Linked DNA regions of Homo sapiens. The protein of the gene in region 1 purifies or fractionates together with the protein of each later gene. This does not show direct contact. Each region holds a gene or a part of one and is shown on either strand. Other genes may lie near its edges. The genes, in order: LIMCH1, CUTC, FGL1 and RFC2.

Region 1 (3,571 bases):
ATCTGGAAATCTCGGTCTTGAAATTTGAGGCAGAAAGTAGAGTGGTTTTGAGAGGGAGCTGTGCAGTTAGGTGACCTGATTGAAACCTGGCTCTACCATTTAACAGGCATGGAATCTTCAACAGGTTTCCTATTCTCTGTGCTCTGATGCAAAATTTAAAGTAACAGTATCTTCCTCATAGTGCTGTTATGGAGATTTTATGGATTATCAAATGTACAGAATTTAGAACAGTACCTGACACATTTTAAGTGCTTAACTATTAGCCATTATTATCATTAGGCCTCTTATTTATGTATTTATTTATTTTTTGAGACGGGGTCTCACTCTGTCACCCAGGCTGGAGTGGAGTGGTGTAATCTCAGCTCACTGCAGCCTCCACCTTCCTGGTTCAAGCAATTCTCATGCCTCAGCCTCCCAAGTAGATGGGATTACAGGCGTATGCCAACATGGCTGGTTAATTTTTGTATTTTTAGTAGAGACAGGGTTTCATCATGTTGTCCAGACTGGTCTCGAACTCCTGGTCTCAAGTGATCTGCCTGCCTCGGCCTCCCAAAGTGCTGGCATTACAGGTGTGAGCCACCTCGCCCAGCCTCATTAGGCCTTTTAAAATCTTTTAAAAGAAATAATGGAAGGCTGGATATTAGTTATAGTTTATTTACCTTAAGCCACTGGTCTTTTTACTCTATTATTTGTTACCCATAAAAAGAAATTTAAATCACAACTCAGCACACACACACACACATAAATATAACTGAAACAGAAGTTGCCCCAAGCAATTTTGCCTTCATTGTGTGACACACTATGTTTTTTTATTATATTCTATTCTAGTTCTTTTTTTTTTATATTGGCTTCAAACCACTAAACTGATTTTATAACCTAGCAACGGGTGGTAACTTTCAGTTTGAAAAACACTGCCTTAAACTATTTCTCTTGATCTTCCTTTATTCTTAATTCTGTTGTACTGGAAAAACAACGGGGCCTGTATTCCCTGCCCTGCCCTCCAAGAAGACACACACACACACACACACACACACACACACACACACACACCCCTACCCCTTAGCTTCTGTCCTGGCATTATTAGCTGGTAACAACGGTCTGATTTGCATGTTACTTTGACCTTTGACCAAAGTTGCTGTCCATGCACTCAGTAATGGAACTGTAGGCCATCAGTAGAAATACTAGCCAGTGAGGCCTACAATGAGGCAGGGGACCCCCACTAGTGAGTGATGAGGAGTAATCTCCAGCTCTAAGAGGGCCTCTGCTCAAATTCTCTAATAACCCCCTCCATGGAAGTGCTTCCTGAGGCCGCCATACCACCTTGCTCCACTTTGCCGCCATGGTGAAGAACAGAGTTTTCTCAGAGCTGAAGTTCTGCCATAAAATCATTTATGCTAATCCTTCTGTTTAAACGATCACTTTGCACTATTTAGATAAAGGAGGGAAAGTGGACATCTAGAATGTTTGGTCAGATGCCTTGGAAATCCAGTTAAATAAATGTATTCTCTATCCTATTCTGGGCCACCTCAACATAGAATCTTCCTTCAGGAAATACCATAGCCATTCATTATCATAGGCCCTAGGTGAAGGAAAGCTTCTGAAACACTTAGGTGGACCACTGAGCACACATGAGCATGTGTGTGTCTATCTGTGTGTGTGTGAGTCCATATGATTAGTAGCTCATCTTCTCAGGAAAAATTCACTTATTTATTTAAGGAGCACTTGCTGAGTGCCTACTCTGTCCTGGGCACCTGTGCCAGGCTCTCAGGATGAAGCCATGAATGACAGAGACATGGCCCCTGCCCTTATAAGGGGACAAACAGCTCAATGTGATCCAGATGAGACAGTCTGGACATTTTTGTTCTATCAAAGCCTAAGATAGAGATTTTTGAGATACATTCAGAGTTATTTCAGCAAAAGTCAGAAAGTGTGGTTTTGTTCTCTTTGAAATACAGCAAGGAAGCTACGTGGCATCACACTGCTCAATCAGTTACGAAAACTTTTCTATCTAATGGTCACATCTCCAAGTGATGCATTCCACCTCTGTTTATTACAAACTCATTGAGTGCAAGGACAAGGGGAACTGATTTTTCTTTACAAGTCAAAAGAACTTAAGACAAAGGATGAGTGCTTCCTCCTGATATAAGAGAAAGTACTTGAATTTGAGGAAGCGAAAAGATGTTTGGTTTCCACAAGTTCTTCAGTCTGGAACACTATTTTACACACTCATTAGCAAAACAACCCAGTTTCTTTCCACTTGTTTAAAAAACCTGTCTCATTTGAGGACCAAGTATGTCCCATGTTCCCATGTGTTCCTTGTATTTTTATCAATTGTAAAATCTTTTTGGATGCTACAATGTCAAATGGATGCTGAATGCCAATTTCTTCCTAAAAGAGAGGTAGCTGCATATACTTCTATTTGAACCAAAAGCAAATAAAATTTTGTTTTGAGGAGTCTGCCATACCTCCTGATACCTAGAAATACTAGGGTATTACTAAATTAGGGTTTTTACCACTAGTACAGAGAAATCATGCCATTATATCAAACTAGAAAATAGACCTTGCTCATGGAGACGACTCCACTATCAGTCTTATAGGAGTCCATCTGTATTAACAACAGCAATTGAGGGAAACAGCTGTCCCTGAAGCATTTACAAACCAAATCTCCAGAGACCTATGACTTTCACAGCTGTAAATGTCAACACATTTTTCTTTTGTATGGTAAAAAGAATGACATTTTCTTGAGTCATGATGCTTCTTTCCATCCACTCCCTGGAGTTCAGCTTTGGTTCTACTCTTAAGGAACTTGTCCTACCTTAAAGGTCTTCAGAACATCTTGAGAATTTTTGGGCTGGGAGTAAGGCTTGGGTGTCAGCATAGGCACTGCTTTGGGAGTGACAGTTTTGCTTGGAGACCCACTGCCTGCTGACATGCTGGTATCCAGAACACTGGCACGAGCAATGGTGGTTTCAACAGTGGCAGTGAATTTGGGTGGAGGCAGTGACTGTTGCCGCAGGTATTTCATGGGATTGGGGTCATTCAGGAAGGAGGATAAATTTGGCTCTGTTGAATGGCTTCTTTCCAGAATTTTTGGCATCTCCAAGCGTTCGAGAACAGCCTCACTGATGGTGAACCTCTCAATGTACTGTTGAAGGATCCCCTCTGCCTCCTCCTGGGACCGAGCGTTCTTATATGCTTCATGCAGCTCTCTCTCTCTCCGCTCTCTAAAGGACATGGGAGAAGCAATAACAAAGTCAACTAATGAAAATTGCAAAGAAGACCTTGGTAGAAACGAAGGTAGCACTGAAGAGATAGTACAGGGAATATAAAATGTTACTATCAGAACCTTTGTGACAGCCAATAATTTTTAGAAAAAAAAAACACCTAGATAATATTGTACATTAAAAACGACAACAGAAAGAACTCACTTTTCTTGAACAATTTCTCTGTAGGTTTTGATGCTTTTCCTTCGTTCACTTGTCCCATCTTCTCCAGCCAGTAACTTCTCCATTTTTTTCCTTTCTTCCTCTTTCTTGATTAAGTCCTGAGAAACACTTCTTCTACGACTCTT
Region 2 (3,571 bases), on another chromosome or scaffold:
AACTACCTAGTAGTGTAACATACTAGTTAAAGCATAGGCTTTGTGATTGGACAGGTCTGTGTTTAAACCCTGGCTTTGACCCTTACTAATAGTGACCATGGATACATTACCTAGCCATCCTAAACCTCAGCTTTGCTCTTCTGCAAAGTTAGGATAATAATAGCACCTACCTCCTAGAATAGTTGTGAGGGATTTCTTCAGGTTATAGCACTTAGTAATTGTTCTATATTATTAAATCTGACATTTAGTGACTGCTCTATATTATTAAATCACTTTGATAGCCTTAGATAAGCATATACTTCTAAATAATCTTGTATGGAAGGCGAAAAGAAATGGTAGAATTCATTTCTTTAAAAATATTATTTCTCTATGTTTTGGAAAGCCTTGATTTGGAAGAAACAGGCAAATATGACTTTTTTCCATTCTGAAGTGATTTCAGCTTTTTAGATAGTCAATGTTTTGTTTTATGGATGCTTTGTTCAGGCCATTTGAGAATATGAAGCATCCTTGTTCCATTTATTTCCCTAACAATTTTTAAATTATTTGAAATAGCCACTCCCCTCTTTCACTCTCTTGTTAACTTTATTTTTTGCTTTATTTATTCACTTGCTTTATTTTTTCTTTGTTATACTTATTGCTACCTGGAATTTTATTGTATAAATATCCCTGTGCATTGTCTCGTCTTTCTTGAATGTGTAAGCTCCATGAGAGCAGGAACTTTCTCTTACTCACCATGTCAGGGAGGAAAAACTTTTCTTCTATCCTCAGGGTTTGTTATTGGGGGCCTGCAAATTAAACTGACTAAAGACAGATTAGCAGGAGTAAAAAGAGATTTTATCACATAAGTACATATATATGTAAGTACATACAGAAGTTCACAAAGAAATATGACTTAGAATTGGGGGCTTATATACCATCTTAATAGGTGAAGGGGAAGGAGAAAATGGCACTTATTGGGGGGGAAAATGACTTTTTGGAAAGATAATTTTCTAGAGACAAATTTACTATGCTGGACATCTTACTTGTCCAAGATCCCAAAGAAATAGAGAAGATCTAGTAAAAATTAAACATTAATAGTAATTTTTAAAATTTAATATATTCTGACTTATGTTTCTATTCTCACTGCCTTATTATCCCATTCAAGAGAAAGATATTAAAATTCACTTGTTTTTTTTTTTCTTTTTTCAGGCAAAAGGCAGGATTGTGGTAATGCCAGGTATTTATTTATCTATCAATTCACTAGCATAACACTGAACTATAGTGGAGGAAGAGCAAAGGAGGCAGGAAAATGTGAGAGAGAGTATTAGTACATTACATATTAGTACATGATCTTTAAAGAGAAGAATATATAGTTTGATTAAAATGTTTAAAACTGGGAGATCTGTGCTAGAATTTAAAAGTTTAGATAAGAAGGAAAATATTGTAATAGGCATTAGCTCAAAGAGGAGCAAATAAGGAAGCAGATAGAGATTGAGGTTTCTCCATATTTGCTCTCCCATTATATAGAACTTTATGAATTCAGATGTTCATCTCTGGTGAGGCACATCAAATTTGATGCTAATCATATTTTGTTTAGGACAAATGTCCTAATAAACAGGGTTTAAGCAAAGGTTTAGGCAACATCCTTGGGTAAAATATAATACTGTCTCAGTTCCTGAAAATCTCTGATTGCCAAATTATTTCTTGTAACCAGAATTTAATCATATGATCCTGATGATAACCATAAGATCAGTTAAGTTCATAATGGCTAACTAGAAATGAACAGTTGGAGCAGTTTTTAAAGAATTAGATAATACAACATAGAAGAGTGAGACAAATGTAAAGACAATCTTAATTTTTTTAATTAAGTTTCTCAAACATATAAAAAAGTAGAAAATAGCATAATGAATACTCATATGCTCATTCCCTAGATTTAACATTTTGCCAAATTTGTCTCATCTTTTTTCTATCCTGAGGTATTTTATTAAAGTTAAATTGAAAGCATCATGGCATTTTATCTTTATTTATCTCTAAAAAGGGTGGGATGTTACCATAATGACAATTCCATTATCACATCTATCACAATAAACATTTAATACTCAACTTTCTCCAATTGTCCCCACAATGGTTTTTATAGCTGATATGTTCAAACTAGGATCCAGTCAAGGAACAAGCATTACATTTTTGGTTATCTTTTGTTTGTTTGTTTGTTTTTAGAGATGAGGTCTTGCTATATTGGCCAGGCTGGACTTGAACTCTTAGCCTCAAGCGATCCTCCTGCCTCAGCCACCCAAGTAGCTGGGACTACAGTTGCACGCTGCCATGCCCAGTTCTATTATCTTTTAAAATATCTTTAATATAGATGTTTTTCCTTTTATTTTTCTTGCTTTAAAAAAAAGTTACATTATTAAGTTTGGGCTGGGCCCAGTGGCTCACGCCTGTAATCCCAGCACTTTGGGAGTCTGAGGCAGCCAGATCACCTGAGGTCAAGAGTTCGAGACCAGCCTGGCCAACATGGTGAAATCCTGTCTCTACTAAAAATACAAAAATTAGCCGGCCATGGTGGCATGTGCCTGTAATCCCAGCTACTTGGGAGGCTGAGGCATGAGCATCACTTGAACCAAGGAGGCGGAGGTTGCAGTGTGCTGAGATTGCACCACTGCACTCCAGCCTGGGTGACACAGCAAGACTCCGTCTCAAAATAAAATAAAAGTTTGGATCACTTACCCTGTAAAATGTCCTACTTTCTGGATTTATCAGATTATTTCCTCATGATATTGTTTAGCTTGTTCCTCGTGCCTCTGTATATCCTATAAACTAATAGTTAAATCATGAGGTTTGAATAGACTCTGCTTAAATATTTTTGGTCAGAATACTTCATGGGTGATTCTGCATACTTACATCATATGACATCACATCAGAAGGTATTCAGTCTCTGGTCATCTCACTACTAGTGATGTCAAGACTGACCAGCGTTCAAAATAGTGACACCTAGATAAAGAGTAACTTTTAAAAAGAGGCCGTGAACCTGGGCAATATAGTAAGACACCATCTTTACCAAAACGTAAAAAAATTAGTTGGGCATGGTGGCGTGCTCCTGACGTCCCAGCTACTCTAGAGGCTGAGGTGGGAGGATTTCTTGAGCCCGAGGTCAAGGCTGCAGTGAGCTATGATCGCACCACTGCACTGCAGCCTGGGCAACAGAGTGAGACCCTGTGTCAAAAGAAAAAAAAAAAAAGGCCATATAAGGGGTATTGTCAGATATTTAGGAAGGCTTTGACCTATAACAAGCCCTTGAAACATAAGCAGAGAGAAAGTATATATTATCTGTCAAATTGTGGTCCTTTTTGGTTAATCAAGGAATGTTAAAGAGACTCTGAGTGTGATGCTTTTCCATTTAGCACTAAATATATATAGTTTTGACAAGTAATACTTAGACAATTGTTGACATTAAGAGTACCTTTGTTTAATATGCAATTGTTATCAGCTGTGTGCAAGGCATTACTTGGGATGCAAAGCTACACAAGAAACTACGTTCTCAAGAAGCTGACTCAGGTCAAAAGATGTTACATACAAAAATATTTGTGATTAA
Region 3 (3,571 bases), on another chromosome or scaffold:
CCTTGATAAAGGAGATGAGAATACTGTCATTGATCTTGGAAGCAAGAGGCAGTATGCAGGTCAGAATGGACTTTTCTTAAGTGTTTCTATAACTTACATTATGCACCCATGTACAGTGATGGTGCTAGTTATTTCAGGCTTTTCCTATTTCAGTAACAAGCAATATGAAGCATTATATCTATTGTAAATGTCTTCTTTCACACTTTACTTTTTTTTTTTTTTTTGAGGCGGAGTCTTGCTCTGTCGCCCAGGCAGGAGTGCAGTGGTGCAATTTTGGCTCACTGCAAGCTCCGTCTACCAGGTTCACACCATTCTCCTGCCTCAGTCTCCCGAGTAGCTGGGACTACAGGTGCCCACCACCAGGCCCGGCTACTTTTTTTGTATTTTTAGTAGAGGCAGGGTTTCACCATGTTAGCCAGGATGGTCTCGATCACCTGACCTTGTGATTCGCCTGCCTCGGCCTCCCAAAGTGCTGGGATTACAGGCGTGAGCCACCGTGCCCAGCCGACACTTTACTTTTTTCTATCTCTGCCAGGGCATTTAATGTGAATGCTAAATATCTGAGAATTTATATCATTTAATAAGAAATCAGGACAATAGATTGTTTAAATACTGATGGACACAGCCAAGTGCGGTGGCTCACGCCTGTAATCCCAGCACGTTGGGAGGCCTAGGTGGGCGGATTACAAGGTCAGGAGATCTAGACCAGCCTGGCCAATATGGTGAAACCCCATCTCTACTAAAAATACAAAAATTAGCTGGGCGTGGTGGCAGGTGCCTGTAGTCCCAGCTACCTGGGAGGCTGAGGCAGGAGAATCACTTGAACCCAGGAGTCGCAGGTTGCAGTGAGCCAAGATCGTGCCACTGCACTCCAGCCTGGGCAACACAATAAGACTCTGTCTCAAAAAAAAAAAAAAAATCCGTGTACACATGGCAGATTACAATTGGGAATTTTTGCATTTGAGCTTTGTGTTTGTGTATCTTTCCTTGTTGCATGTATGCAGTTTTCCCTTCTGAAATCCTAATGTGCATTAGGGTGGCAAATAAGGTAAAAAATAAAGGAGCAGAAAAAGGAAAAAGAACCAGAATTACTAAGGAAAATAAAAGAGTAGTTTTTTATATGTATATTTTCTGATTTCATAATGTTCCTTTCAATGAGGTATTTCTCCCCAGAAACTAAATGATTTTAAACTGGCAACACATTACACACATTGCTGCACAAATCATTATTCTCTATGGAAAACTGTTCACTTGAATTCCTCCAGAAGTAAAAGGTATCTTTTAGAGTAAACGACGATTGTCAGAAACAAAAAGAATGCTAGCGAAAGCACTTTGTCCATATGTCTATTCTAGCACTACCATGCTACATTGTAATTTCTGTTTATGAGTCTATTGAGGTCAATTAACTGGGCACTCTGTGAGGTCTAGAATGATATTTAATGTACTTTTATCTCCCTGTTGGCTATTAGAGTGCCTGAAACATAGTAGATCCTCATATTCAGGAATGAAAGGAAGGTAGTTCATAGGGAGAGGAATAGCAAGATAAGCAAATATAAATTCGGACACCTATTTGACTAGAATTGAAAGACTGTAGAGGTCAAAGAGTTGCCAATCTTATGGGAATAGAAACATGTTTATTTTCTGCTTCTAATCATACAAGTGTAGGATATAGGAGTTGTGAGAGTCTATGCTTCCATAAAATGCTTCAGGGCACCTGGCTGGCTCACACTGTAGCGCATGAGACTCTTAAAATGCTCCCTTTTTTTCTACCAAGATCCTTATCTCCCTCTGCTCAGACTCCTCGCCCTGGGCTCCTGCTTCTCTTATGGCCAGCATCTTGATCCAACTGCCCTCCCTCTGGCCCTTAGAGATCAGAAAGAGGCCAGAGCCAGTGGTCTGCAGTAGTGGGGATGGCTATAGCCTGAAGATGGCCAGTGCCTCTGGAGCCAAGAGGAACCAGGGACAGTTCGGGTAAAAATGGGCTTGGGAAGCAAACGGACTATCGTTTAAGGGATGAGCATACAGATAAGTGATCCCAAAAGAACATACAAAGCTGATCTCAAGGGCGAGGAACTCGTAGATGCCAGTGGATCATCATTACTCCAAATTTCAAACCAAGCCCAAGACTTGGGGTTTCTATTTGAACACATTCTGAGCAGGTTATTGGCACAGACTCAAGGGTCAATCATGGCAGGGGGCAGCTAATCAGATGTTTGTTCCCAGGCCTCTACAACCAGTCATGGGAAGACTGAGGCTTAAGTGCTGTATTAGTCCGTTCTCATACCGCTATAACGAAATGAATGAGGCTGGGTCGTTTATAAAGAAAAGAGGTTTAATTGGCTCATGGTTCTGCAGGCTGTAAAGGAAGCATAGCAGCATCTGCTTCTGGGGAGGCCTCAGGGAACTTACAATCATGGCAGACGGCAAAGCAGAAGCAGGCACATCTCACATGGTGGGAACAGGAGAAAGAGAGGGAGGAGGTGCGACACTGTTTCAAAAACCAGATCTCATGAGAACTCACCACTCACTGTAGAGTACCAAGAGAGATGGTGCTAAAACATTCATGACAACTCCACCCCCATGAGCCAATCGCCTCCCACTAGGCCTTCCCTCCCACACTGGGAACTACAACTCAACATGAGATTTGGTGGGGACACACATCCAAATCATATCAAGAGCTGAAGATCCAGTCCTTGTGTTGACACTGCTGGGGAGCAGACTTTGGGAAGTAAGGGGTCACCAAGGAATAAGGCAAGAAATCAGTTACTTGGAAATTACGATGCCAAGGTCAGAGCAGGATTAACTGTACAAGCAGGAGTTAGAAGAGTCATATAGAGATGCTTCAGAAAAAACATTATAATTATTATAAATATAATACTGTTATAATAATAAGACAGATGATAGGAATTCTAGATGACTGTTTTTTGATATAAAAGCCAAAAAAATCAGAATTCAGTAGATTAAAACAATATTTTTCATATATTAATTACAAGCATGAAGAAGAAAAAGGGGAAATAAAATATAAACACAGTTCAATTGTTCTTTATATTTTAGCATATAGGGAGATAGTACTGGAGAGGCTACTAAGAACAGATACTCAATAAATAAAATATATAACATAAAAATTCCAATAAAGTATAGTGTTTTATATATATATAATATGGTATAAAATATATAAGAACTTGTTCACCTCAAAGTTTATGTTTTTGGTGTCCTTAAATTGAAAACAATTAAATATTCATACATATAATCTGTAGAAATATAAATCTTTTCTTCTTATTTACAAGTTACTTTATTATTACTAAATTAGTTATTTTCTGAATTCTAATTTATCTGATGGTAGAAAACACCCAATTACATACAACCTAGCAATTTGTGCAAACAATGCACTAGGCACATGATTTTCTACAGCATACTATTAAGCTGTATCTTTTTTTAAAGAATTTGGGTGCTAGCGGATTATGAATTAAAAGGTTACTGTGTCAAATTCACATTAACTGGTGGCAAGAACAAAAATCTGGCGTCACCACCGCCGTTCACTTGACAACACCACTGGCTCCAGCATCTCCCC
Region 4 (3,571 bases), on another chromosome or scaffold:
ATTACTGCCACATTAAAAAAAAAAAATTTTTTTTTTGAAACAGAGTCTTGCTCTGTTGCCCAGGCTGGTGTGCACTGGCACCATCTCAGTTCACTGCAACCTCTGTCTCCCGGGTACAAGCGATTCTCCTGCCTTGGACTCCTTAGTACCTGGGATTACAAGCACCATTGCATTCCAGCCTGGGCGCCACCATGTCCGGCTAATTTTTATACTTTTAGTAGAGACGGGGTTTCCACGTTGGCCAGGCTGGTTTCGAACTCCTGACCTCAAGCAATCTGCCCGCCTCGGCCTCCCAAAGTGCTGGGATTACAGGTGTGAGCCACCGCACCTGGCCCTAAAAAAAATTTATTTCGCCAGGCACAGCACCTCATGCCTGCAATCCTAGCACTTTGGGAGGCCGAGGCAGACAGATCACTTGAGGCCAGGAGTTTGAGACCAGCCTGGGTAACATAGTGAGATCCTGCCCCTGTGAAAAAAAAAATAGCTGGTTGCAGTTGCACAAGCCTGTAGTCTCCGCTACTTGGGAGGCTGAGGTGGAGGATCATTACAGCCGAGGAGTTCAAGGTTGCAGTGAGCTATGACTGTGCCATTGGACTCTAGTCTGAGTGATATAGTGAGACCCTGTCTCAAAAACTACAACAAAAAACAACGTTATAGGGTTAGGGTTCTATATTCTTTTCTTAATGTCATTTCAATTTTTTTTTTTTTTTTGAGATGGAGTTTCGCTCTTGTTGCCCAGGTTGCAGTGCAAATGGCATGATCTCAGCTCACCACAACCTTCGCCTCCGGGGTTCAAGCAATTCTCCTGCCTCAGCCTCCCAAGTAGCTGGGATTACAGGTATGTGCCACCACACCTGGCTAATTTTGTATTTTTAGTAGAGACGAAGTTTCTCCATGTTGGTCTCCATCTCCCGACCTCAGGTGATCCGCCTGCCTCGGCCTCCCAAAGTGCTGGGATTACAGGCATGAGCCACCGAGCCTGGACTCAGATTCTTCATTTATACCAACCGAAGTGTTGTGATGGTTGCACAACATTGCAAATGTACTAAATGCCACTGAACTGTATACTTCAAAATAGTTAAAATGGTAAATTTTGGGCCGGGCGCAGTGGCTCACACCTATAATCCCAGCACTTTGGGAGGCCGAGGCGGGCGGATCATGAGGCCAGGAGATCAAGACCATCCTGGCTAACACAGTGAAACCCCGTCTCTACTAAAAATACAAAAAAATTAGCTGGGCGTGGTGGAGGGCGCCTGTAGTCCCAGCTACTCGAGAGGCTGAGGCAGAAGAATGGCGTGAACCCAGAAGGTGGAGCTTGCAGTGAGCCAAGATTGCGCCACTGCACTCCAGCCTGGGCGACAGAGCAAGACTCCGTCTCACAAAAAAAAAAAAAAAAAAATTTATGGTTAATTATGTCCATTTAACCACAATAAAAAAATTTACAGGCCAGGCACAGTGGCTCACACCTATAATCCCAGCATTTTGGGAGGCCGAGGCGGGTAGATCACCTGAAGTCAGGAGTTCGAGACCAGCCTGGCCAACATGGCGAAACCCCATCTCTACTAAAAATACAAAAATTAGGCCAGGCTCGGTGGCTCATGCCTGTAATCCCAGCACTTTGGGAGGCTGAGGCGGGCGGATCACGAGGTCAGGAGATTGAGACCACCCTGGCTAACATGGTGAAACCCCTTCTCTACTAAAAATACAAAAAATCAGCTGGGCGTGGTGGTGCATGCCTGTAGTCTCAGCTACTCGGGAGGCTGAGGCAGGAGAATCACGTGAACCCAGGAGGCGGAGGTTGCAGTGAGCTGAAATCGCACCACTGCACTCCAGCCTGGGAGACAGAGCGAGACTCTGTCTCAAAAAAAAAATAAATAAATAAATACAAATACAAATACAAATACAAATACAAAAATTAGCCGGGTGTGGCGGCAGATGCCTGTAGTCCCAGATACTTGGGAGGCTGAGGCCAGGGAACCGCCTGAACCCGGGAGGCGGAGGTTGCAGTGAGCAGAGATCACACCACTATACTCCAGCCTGAGTGACAGAGAGAAACTCCATCTCAAAAAAAAAAAAAAACAAAAACCCTCATTTAAATTATTAACGTAAGAGATGCTGAAACCAGCACATTAAATGAATGACTATCTTAGACAAATGTTTGTAAGTTACTTAATAAAGATAAGATTTAAGGTGCAGGCCCCTATTAAATTGCTTGTGGAAGATATGATAAGCAAATCTACCATAAAAGTGCTTTTTATCCTGATTGAATAAAACCGAAAAAGAGATTTAGAGATCAAGGTCAAAATACATTTGGCAAAGCACTCTACCTGTCTGCTTCATCCAGAATGATGATCTTATGTCGGCCTTTGGGAAGAGTGACTTTTTGTTGAGCAAACATTTTAATTTTATTCCTCACAACGTCAATGCCCCTGAAAGAATGACAGGTTTTTACTGGCACCTTCTGAGACCAATTCAGTTGCCTTCACAAGGACTTTTAAACAATCGGTATATCAGGGACTGTGAGGCCCAATTTCCATTTTTGAGTTTTTTTGGGGGGCAATTGTAACTATTTATAAGGATTGAGATTTTATGGCATTTGTTCTTTCTTGGAGGTCTTTCAAAGAACAAAGAAAATATACACTTTTTTTTTTTTTTTCTTCAGACAGGGTCTCGCTGTGTCATCCAGGCTGGAGTGCAGTGGCCCTCTTGGCTCACTGCAAGCTCTGCCTCCCAGGTTCAGTGAGCCGGGATCACGCCACTGCACCCCAGCCTGGCGATAATTCGTCTCAAAAAAAAAAAAAAGCCTCATCCTTCAGTTTTTTAACTGCATTGCTTGAGATACCATATTATCTTTCAAAAGATGTAATAGAAGTGCAGATATACCACCTTTGTTATCTTGTAAGCTTTCACTAACCACAGCCAAGAATTCAAAATTTTTCATTCTCTACCCACAACAGGAAAGAGAAAAAAATTGAGAGGAGGACTCTTCCTAATTATTAGGTGAATCAGAAAATAACTGCAATGTAGGCCAAGCATGGTGGCTCACACCTGTAATCCCAACACTTTAGGAGGCCAAGGTGGGCGGACCACTCCAGGCCAGTTTAAGATCAACCTGGCCAACACGGCGAAAATCCATCTTTACTAAAAATACAAAAATTACCTGGGCGTGCCCGCGCACGCCTGTAGTCCCGGCTACTTGGGAGGCTGAGGCACGAGAATCGCTTGAACCCAGAAGGCAGAGGTTATGGTGAGTCGAGATCGTGCCACTGCACTCCAGCCTGGGTGACAGAGCAAGACTCTGTCTCAAAAAAAAAGAAAGAAAGAAAAGAACAGAACAGAACAGTACAGAACTGCAGAGACACCAATAGCAACATTCTAAATGCTACTGATGGTGAAATTGATCAATAAGCAAAATCTCAGACTATGAATCTTCAGATGCCAATATCCTCCAGACATTTTCCCTAACTGAAGAATCAAGGAGTGAACAATATGCAGCTGTCCCTTGGTGTTCCTGGGGACTGGTGCTAGGCCCTTCCTCAGACACCAAAATTCACTTTTGCTCAAGTCCCTT

The links.
Region 2: the proteins of LIMCH1 (region 1) and CUTC fractionate together in Homo sapiens (co-fractionation; one large-scale study listed by BioGRID). This does not show direct contact.
Region 3: the proteins of LIMCH1 (region 1) and FGL1 purify together in Homo sapiens (co-immunoprecipitation; one large-scale study listed by IntAct). This does not show direct contact.
Region 4: the proteins of LIMCH1 (region 1) and RFC2 purify together in Homo sapiens (affinity purification with mass spectrometry, with the first as the bait; one large-scale study listed by BioGRID). This does not show direct contact.

The regions. Positions count from the first base shown.
Region 1 is NC_000004.12:41,646,138-41,649,708, reverse strand, and holds part of LIMCH1 (LIM and calponin homology domains-containing protein 1), read right to left. Parts: coding exon 3,429-3,571; intron 3,225-3,428; coding exon 2,816-3,224; intron 1-2,815.
Region 2 is NC_000010.11:99,749,181-99,752,751, forward strand, and holds part of CUTC (copper homeostasis protein cutC homolog), read left to right. Parts: intron 1-1,188; coding exon 1,189-1,216; intron 1,217-3,571. UniProt on the Homo sapiens protein: May play a role in copper homeostasis. Can bind one Cu(1+) per subunit.
Region 3 is NC_000008.11:17,878,487-17,882,057, reverse strand, and holds part of FGL1 (fibrinogen-like protein 1 precursor), read left to right. Parts: coding exon 1-59; intron 60-3,571. UniProt on the Homo sapiens protein: Immune suppressive molecule that inhibits antigen-specific T-cell activation by acting as a major ligand of LAG3. Responsible for LAG3 T-cell inhibitory function. Binds LAG3 independently from MHC class II (MHC-II).
Region 4 is NC_000007.14:74,244,335-74,247,905, forward strand, and holds part of RFC2 (replication factor C subunit 2), read right to left. Parts: intron 2,430-3,571; coding exon 2,328-2,429; intron 1-2,327.